2 separate regions of the Homo sapiens genome follow, and region 1 is reported to be linked to region 2. The links are microRNA targets in miRTarBase. Many come from high-throughput screens and were not tested one by one. Region 2 holds a microRNA gene; the other region holds the end of a gene's coding sequence.

What was found. The annotated mature microRNA hsa-miR-4423-5p reads AGUUGCCUUUUUGUUCCCAUGC and lies in region 2 at 1,051-1,072, opposite strand. An mRNA with a match to its seed (bases 2 to 7 or 8) in the 3' UTR can be bound and repressed. Matches are read on the target gene's strand: a 7mer-m8 pairs with bases 2 to 8, a 7mer-A1 pairs with bases 2 to 7 and ends in A, and an 8mer does both.
Region 1: miRTarBase lists GNL3 as a target of hsa-miR-4423-5p. Seed matches in the 3' UTR shown: 7mer-m8 at 982-988.

What each region holds. Positions count from the first base shown.
Region 1 is chr3:52,693,418-52,697,479 of GRCh38, forward strand. It overlaps GNL3 (G protein nucleolar 3), which reads left to right. Exons shown (of 15, transcript NM_014366.5): 12 at 1-127; 13 at 215-390; 14 at 620-686; 15 at 776-1,080. The coding sequence ends at 858. GLT8D1 (glycosyltransferase 8 domain containing 1) reads right to left here. Exons shown (of 10, transcript NM_018446.4): 5 at 3,125-3,242; 6 at 2,817-2,901; 7 at 2,511-2,623; 8 at 2,004-2,170; 9 at 1,773-1,885; 10 at 1,069-1,618. The coding sequence ends at 1,428. Among named protein-coding and RNA genes, the nearest start is that of SNORD69, 2.7 kb to the left of the region's middle.
Region 2 is chr1:85,130,823-85,134,877 of GRCh38, reverse strand. It overlaps MIR4423 (microRNA 4423), which reads right to left and starts at 1,084; the gene lies at 1,005-1,084. DNAI3 (dynein axonemal intermediate chain 3) reads right to left here. Exons shown (of 23, transcript NM_145172.5): 23 at 1,740-2,023. The coding sequence ends at 1,880.

The DNA.
Region 1 (4,062 bases), not on the chromosome of region 2:
GCTTACTATTGCCATCCCCCTACATCTTGGACTCCTCCTCCATATTTTAATGAGAGTATTGTGGTAGACATGAAAAGCGGCTTCAATCTGGAAGAACTGGAAAAGAACAATGCACAGAGCATAAGAGGTGAGAATTGTGTGTCGCTGCTGTCTTCATCAGCTGACAGGCCAGTGGAGCTCTTACCTGTTTACATGGGCTTGCTTTCTTTCCCAGCCATCAAGGGCCCTCATTTGGCCAATAGCATCCTTTTCCAGTCTTCCGGTCTGACAAATGGAATAATAGAAGAAAAGGACATACATGAAGAATTGCCAAAACGGAAAGAAAGGAAGCAGGAGGAGAGGGAGGATGACAAAGACAGTGACCAGGAAACTGTTGATGAAGAAGTTGATGTAAGTGTGTCCTCCATGAGTTAAAACTGAAGTGAGTTTTCTAGCATTATAATACATAATGGAAGGAACTGAAGATAGGAAATATTTGAGGCTTGTGATCCATTAGCCTTAATTTTGCACATCCCGTTATATGTACCTCCAAAGAGTTAATTTTTCAGGTACATAACTACTTGGATTAAATGAGCAGACAAGGGCTACTAATCCAGCACTATTTTTCTTTGTCACACAGGAAAACAGCTCAGGCATGTTTGCTGCAGAAGAGACAGGGGAGGCACTGTCTGAGGAGACTACAGCAGGTGAGGCAGGCAAAAGGGGTTCTAACGAAGCAGCATGGTATAGAATCACTTTTACTTTTTGAAAATCTCTTTATTTTCCTGCAATATAGGTGAACAGTCTACAAGGTCTTTTATCTTGGATAAAATCATTGAAGAGGATGATGCTTATGACTTCAGTACAGATTATGTGTAACAGAACAATGGCTTTTTATGATTTTTTTTTTAACATTTTAAGCAGACTGCTAAACTGTTCTCTGTATAAGTTATGGTATGCATGAGCTGTGTAAATTTTGTGAATATGTATTATATTAAAACCAGGCAACTTGGAATCCCTAAATTCTGTAAAAAGACAATTCATCTCATTGTGAGTGGAAGTAGTTATCTGGAATAAAAAAAGAAGATACCTATTGAAAAATGTAAGTTTTATTTACAGATCAGGCCACAGGTTACAAAATTAAAACCAACAGCAGTTTTGAATTATCTGTACCAGCTAGCTGAACTAGCCATATCAGTTCTTCTTTCCAGTCATTCAGCATTGTAGTAAGAAAACACTTGGTAAGGCAGATGGAGACATATTTATAGTCTATAGTCTGTCTGGGAAGCTGACTGCCAGACAGGGCAGTTTGTCATCTTTACCTAGCTGACACATCTTTTTCCATGGCTTGCTACCGATAGGCATTGAAGCCTAGCAACTGTTACTTCCCACGCATGCTATCTTCCAGGACTTCCTGAGAAATGCTTGCTTACAGTTCAAATTCTGTTTCACTTTATGTTTGAGATCTCGGTATATCTTCGGATTAGGTTGAATTTGCCTGTTGGGTCTGGAATATACCATTTTTCCCAAACATCAGTATATGAAGCAGTCCTTCCCCATGGCTTCAAATGTCCATTCCAATGGAGTAACTTGGCAGCCTTTACAAACTGAGGTGAATATCGTTTTCCAGCACTGGAACCTTACATTTGAGACAAAAATAGCCACATCGTTGCGCCATGTGAAATTGTGCAGAAAACTTACTTAAGGGAAACAAAGAATATACCCCATCCCTGAGGATAGTTCTTTAGATACCAATTCTTTACTAGCTTATGCCACTGGTTAATTCTACTTACCAAGGTGGCGGACATTCCACATAGGATCGATGGTAGAGTGCTGTTGATAAAATACGATAAGCAGAGGAGGTGTTGTGATGCTACCAGCCAGGGTTCTGCTATACAGTCCCTCTCTTGGTGGGACAGAAAACAAATGTTTGTTAGTGAAAAGTACTGACTAACTCCTGTTAGTCAAGACTCTAGGAATTGAAATACAACAGTTTTTCACAGCTAGGCCAGTTACATACTTACTCTACATTGAGTTTCATCCATTTTTCCAGTTGGTTAGTTATATTCTGTCGTTTCCATTCCGTCAGGTTTGCAACAAAAACTCCAGGATTAAATGAGCAAGTGCTGGCTTTCATGGAAAGCTTACGAATTCTTTCCTTTTTATAGTCAAGATAGCCAATGTAATTGTACTAAAAACACAAATAGGATATATGTACTTACTGCTTCAAACAAAATAGATACAATTTTATAGCCAGTAGAGAGAAGAGCTGTTAAACTGACTTCTTCAGATTAGAAAATAAATATTTGAAATTCCAAGTTAGAATAGGAACCTAGATGTTGACATAATAAACCAGATGTTCAAGAACAATTAGGCTGTCAAGTCCATGAAGAAGTCTACAGAAAAGCAGGCTTGAGTTTTGGGATGAAATGATTGGGGAGTGTAAATTGCAGCAAAAGAGTTCCCTGAATTTGCAACCTCTTCCCATTAAACAATATTGTAGGAAGAGGGGTGTTTGGTAAGCAATTTACCTGGTTTCCTGCTCCACGGATGACAACTTTAGTAGAGGCTGAATCACAATCTTCTGAAAATGCAGCTGCATGTCCTGGCTTCAGTGCTGTATTGTAAAGGGCAAGAATATCACCTGAAATAGACAAGATGTTAAGATTTACATTTCCGTTGCCTTGAGAGTTCCCTGTTACTCCCACTTCTCCCTATGGTGACCTTTTATAGAAGACCATAAATAAACCACTACAGCCCACTGTAGCCCATTGTTTTATTTAGCAATTGTACCCAATCTGGGTGGAGAACAGCACTCATGGTGACATTTTTGATACCTTGCACAATTACATCATCATCCATGTATATGGCCTTCTTTGCGCTGGGAACCAGAATTGGCAAGTAGAACCTTGCAAAGGTTAACTGGAAAAGGAAAGAATAATTGGCATAGGATACCGCACTAGCTGTGCTTTTATTTACACAGAAACTCCTAGGATGCTTTCAGTACCCATTCAGGAGAAGAAAGGACTCTTAGAACCACCCAGGCTTGGTCCCCAGGAAACTACTTGCACTATACCCACAGATACCCAGGTATTCCATTATTTCCTAATACTGCCAAGTGCAAAGAAGGATGCATGGAACTCACAGGTTTCATGGATTCCCCCTGGTCAGGATCCTCCTTTACTTTTCCTTCCAAAAGTTTAGGGTCAAAATTGACAATTTTGTATCTGATGCTTTTCAGGGAATCACTGTTGAGCCAGGACCTGATGAAGATAAAACACTACATTTTAGTTTCAAATAATGTCTCCAAACCAATGAGGGAATAATGCAAAAGAAACCCTATGGACCAAATAGGTGTTTTCAAGCTCCTTTTATCTCTGAGCTTTGGTTTCCTCGTCTGAAGTGAGGGTAATTCCCACCAAAGTCCCTCCCTGAATTAAGATTGTATGGTAATTATCTTCTAACACTAAAACTACTCTAGAAAAACTATAGAATTAAGAACATTTCATCACCACCTGGACTATCCAACTCTTAACTGTGGTGACCCTAATTCCACCACTCAAGTCTGAGGCACTACCTGTAAGAAAAAACTGTTTGCTAAAGGAGTACTGCACATTTTTTCTAGGTCAGTTTCAAATCAGTGTTTTGTGGCTACTTAGTGTTATTTCTGTAGTCTATTTTTATACAGCTTCTGTTTCTGTATTTTAAATGCGTTCAGAATTTACAGCTTTAAAAACTAAATATGAACCATGCAGAGGGCCACAAGGACCAAAATGTTTCAGAAATTTGACAACTGGTTAATTTGTTAGACCAACAAATTTGGAGTAAGTTTTATAAGTCTTATTCATTTTCAAAATGGATTAGACTATCCAAGTTTCCCCAGATCACTCTGGGCCAGGATTTGGATCAGGATCTGTGATCAGCATCACAACACTACCTTGCCATTGTTGCTAAGTCCCTTCCCACTCTAGACCAGAACTGCTCCGAGCATGTCCATGAAATAAGGAACTTGTGACTTGTAAATCAACATTTACTGCTCCCTTCACTGAGAAAGTATTATTATCAAAACACCATCAGGTGGGG
Region 2 (4,055 bases):
ACAGGGAGAACAGGAGGCTGCTGCAAAATCCAAGCTGATGATGATGCAGCTTGGACCATGGTGGTAGCAGTGAGGGAGAAGAGAAGCGATCAGGTTTCACATGCATACTGAACGTGTAGTCAACAGGACTTGCTGACAGATTGGATGTGGATTGTGAAAGAAAGGAGATGAAGGATGACCTTAAGGCTTTTGCCCCAAGCAGCATCATGGCTGGGAGGACTGCTGGAGGAATGGTTTTTGAAGGGAAACATCAAGCACTCAATTTTGGACATGTTTAAGTTTGAGATGCCTATTAAACATCCAAGTGGAGATACAAAAGGTCAAATAGATACACATCTCTTGATTTTAGAGAGAAGGCCAGGTCAGGGACAGAGGTAGTATCTAAAGCCTTGAGAGTGGATGCATGCACCTAGAAAGTGAGTGCAGAAAAAAGAAAGAATAAAAGAAGTTCAAGTGTAAGGATGAGCCCTGGGATATTTCAATCATGATGACAATAATATGTGCCAGGCACAGGCCCCTTATCTGCAGGGGCTCATTTGCCCCTTACATAAATGCTGCAAGTTAAGTTCTCTCAACCTGACTTGATGGAAGGGGAATCTGTTTCACAGAGCTGGGTCATCTGTTCAAGGGCACACAGGTGGTTAAGAGCTAAAATCTATCCGACAAAGTTTTCTTTCCTCTAGCAATCTAACTTATAAACCTTGGTATTATCCTTTGTCTTCCCTTCCCCATCCAACCAGCCTTTGATTTCTATCTTCACATTAAGCTTTAGTACAGGGCATCCTAATCCTTTGCCCTGAACAATTCCTCCTGCCTCCTAATAGGATTTCTTGCCATGAGACTCTCCCCTGCTCTAGTTCATTCCTTGTTTCCTAAAAATAAAGCTGATTGGGTCAACTTCCTGTTTAGACCTTCCATTCATTCCCCATAAATTCTAATCCAGCTCCTTAGCTTGGTAAACAGGAGCCTTCACAATCTGGCTCCAAGCTCTTTTGTGTCTCAGTTTCACATACTGTTGTTGCTTTTTGGTGCCTATGCTAGGCTTAAACAGCATGGGAACAAAAAGGCAACTGCAGTACATGATGTCAGGCACCTGATGGTGTGAGCTGTGTCTTGTTCCACATCTCAGGGGAAAGCTTTCTGCTTGTCACCATGAAGTACCATGTTTGGTGTAGTATTGTTTTACACGCCCTTCATCACATTACAGGAATTCTTTCTGTAGATGCCAAGAATGTATCATTATTATCATGAATTGATGTCAACTTTTATGAAATGTTTTTCTGCATCGACTTGGCATCATAATTTCTCTCTTTTGATTAATCACTGATTTATTTTCTACTCTTAAATTAACCTTATCTTCCTTGGATAAACCCAACTTTGTCTTCATGTGTTAACCTCTTTAAAATATATATATATATATATTTCTGGATTTGATTTGCTAATATTTTGTTTAGCACATGGCCCTACAGTTTGTACAGTGGCCAAGGGGAAGCACTTTTTTTGGAAAGGTGGCCAAAAGCAAGCTGATAAGTAGGAGCAGTTTGATTTCCCCTTCTGCCTGGAATGAGGGCCTCTGTGTGGACAGCAAGGATTGGGATGGAAGGGACATCCAAAGTTCTCTATTATTATAGGAAAATACAAATTTTGTTATTGAAAACATTCATTAAAAAAGAACACTTTCATATTCAGTACAAAATTTGGTACATACATGGTACAAAAACTGAAATAGATCTCATTGCTAAAATTCAAAAGTTTTAATAGCAGGGAAATAAAAGTCTATAAATGAGCCTATATATATATATGTTCAGCATGCCAGTTCACCTGACATAAAAATAAATAGAGGGAAGAAGTCCCCAAAACACCCCTTCAGGAAGCTTTTTTACATCACCTCCATGTATGACCCCTTCTCTGTGACTTTGATTAGGCCAAGGTTGATAAGAACAGTCTTTTCCAGTTCCAGATAACTCTCATAGTCCATTTTTAATTCAGCCTGCATTTGTTCTTTTGACTTCTGATATGTTTTCTGGGGGGGGAAGAAAAACAAGACATCCCTATAAAACACTGATATCTAAAAATACCAAAGGATGAGAAGGGGCTGTTTGTGAATAGTTGACCTGGCTGCTGTTTTCTGGAAAGGGCTGGATGGAGGGCAGGAAGGCAGGAGGGCAGGTGGGCAGGAGGCAGTCAGATGTGCTGGGAAAGGAGGGAGTGGGGGGAAACATGGTCCCCAACCACTGTCTCTCAAAAAAAAGTCCCTTTTTCCGGCCTTCTTCCCTATAACTCTTGTTTCCCTTATGTAGACTGGAGGGTGACTAATAGCCTAGAGGTTGCAGAATTCTTTTGAAATCCCCCTCTTCTGAGTCCATATGGATGGCATAGCTTGTGGATCACACGGCAATGACTACTGTCCCAGGCTGAGTCTCCAGCTGAAATTCTGGTTAGGAAAATTCCCATTTCATATGCAACTAGAGCAGTGATTATTATTGTCCATTGAGGAGTGAGCTGTTTCCAGATTTTATGTTTGCAAAGAGACAGGTGCATGATTTTCCTGAAATCTGTGTTGAACTGTACAGCCTCAACCTGGCACCTGGTGAGCACTCACACAGGCCAGCCTTGCTGGACGAACATGTGAACACTTTCTATGTGCCAGTTATTGGCTAAGTGCTGTAAATATTTTAACTCATTTAAGCTCCATTGCAATCTTCTGAGGTTGTTACTGTTGCCATTTCCCCCTTTATCAGCCGTTGCTTAGAAGGAGACATTTCTGACTAACATTAGTTGTTTTTCCTTAGTGACTTTTTTTATGTTCTCAATGTAACAGAGGAACCCTTTCAAATTCATTCACATACCCACAATCTATTCATAGTTGCAGAGAAAATTTGAGAAGTGGTGGCTTTACTTAAAAGAGGGCACCATATCAAATGGAAATAAAGTTACAAGAAGTTGGGAACGTTTTGGAAATTGAAAAGTATAATACAATTTAAGATATTATTATTATAATATTCAGGTGTTTAAAAAGTATTTCACATGCAAATTATTTTTGGATTATCCACAATTCTACTCGCTCCCACTGATGTAGATAATTAGGAGCTGTTGCTATGGTATTTAAACACTCATAATAATCGTGGATAATTGCTGGGGAAGGGGAAGGGTGGCAGATTCTCTCCCACAATAGAATCTCAACAAATCAACATTTGTTAAGTGCAAAAGAACAAAACTAAGATCAATTTGTTTGTAGCAGTGGAATGCAATGAAAGTTTAATTAATTGGCATTCTTTTACACTTTGTCACCAAACATGTTTTGAAATGAGATCCTCTGCTTTTATTGCACTAATTAGTATTTATCAATGAGTGATAATGTTAATTTATTTGCTAATGCAGCACATTACAATATTTCCACATGCTAATGCTTTATTTTTTTTTTTTTTTTTTTGAGATGGAGTTTCGCTCTTGTTGCCCAGGATGGAGTGCAATGGCACAATCTCGGCTCACCATAACCTCCGCCTCCCAGGTTCAAGTGATTCTCCTGCCTCAGCCTCCCGAGTAGCTGGGATTACAGGTATGTGCCACCATGCCCGGCTTATTTTGTATTTTTAGTAGAGACAGGGTTTCTCCATGTGGGTCAAGCTGGTCTCGAACTCCTGACCTCGTGATCTGCCTGCCTCAGCCTCTCAAAGTGCTGGGATTACAGGTGTGAGCCACGGCGCCCAGTGCCACATGCTAATGCTTTTGAGACTGAAGGCCTCATGTGAGTAACTGTGTTTGAGGATGTATGTATTTGGCTATACGGAACCTACAGATGAGATCAATGATGAAATGCTGGTAACAAAAGAGCAAAGGAGAGAGGGAGCAAGAGGGAAACAGAAATTGAGACTGAGGTGATCTCAAGTGAGAAAGAGAGAAAAGCCTAATTCACAAAGTATTTAGAAGCCCAAAATTCCAGTGGGCAAGGGAAGACCAGCAGAGTCACAGAATTCGTATCAAACAGGGAGAAGCTGAGAAAGGGAGCATGGGGTGCTTTAGAGCTTAGGTTCTTTTTTGGCAGAGTTTAAGAT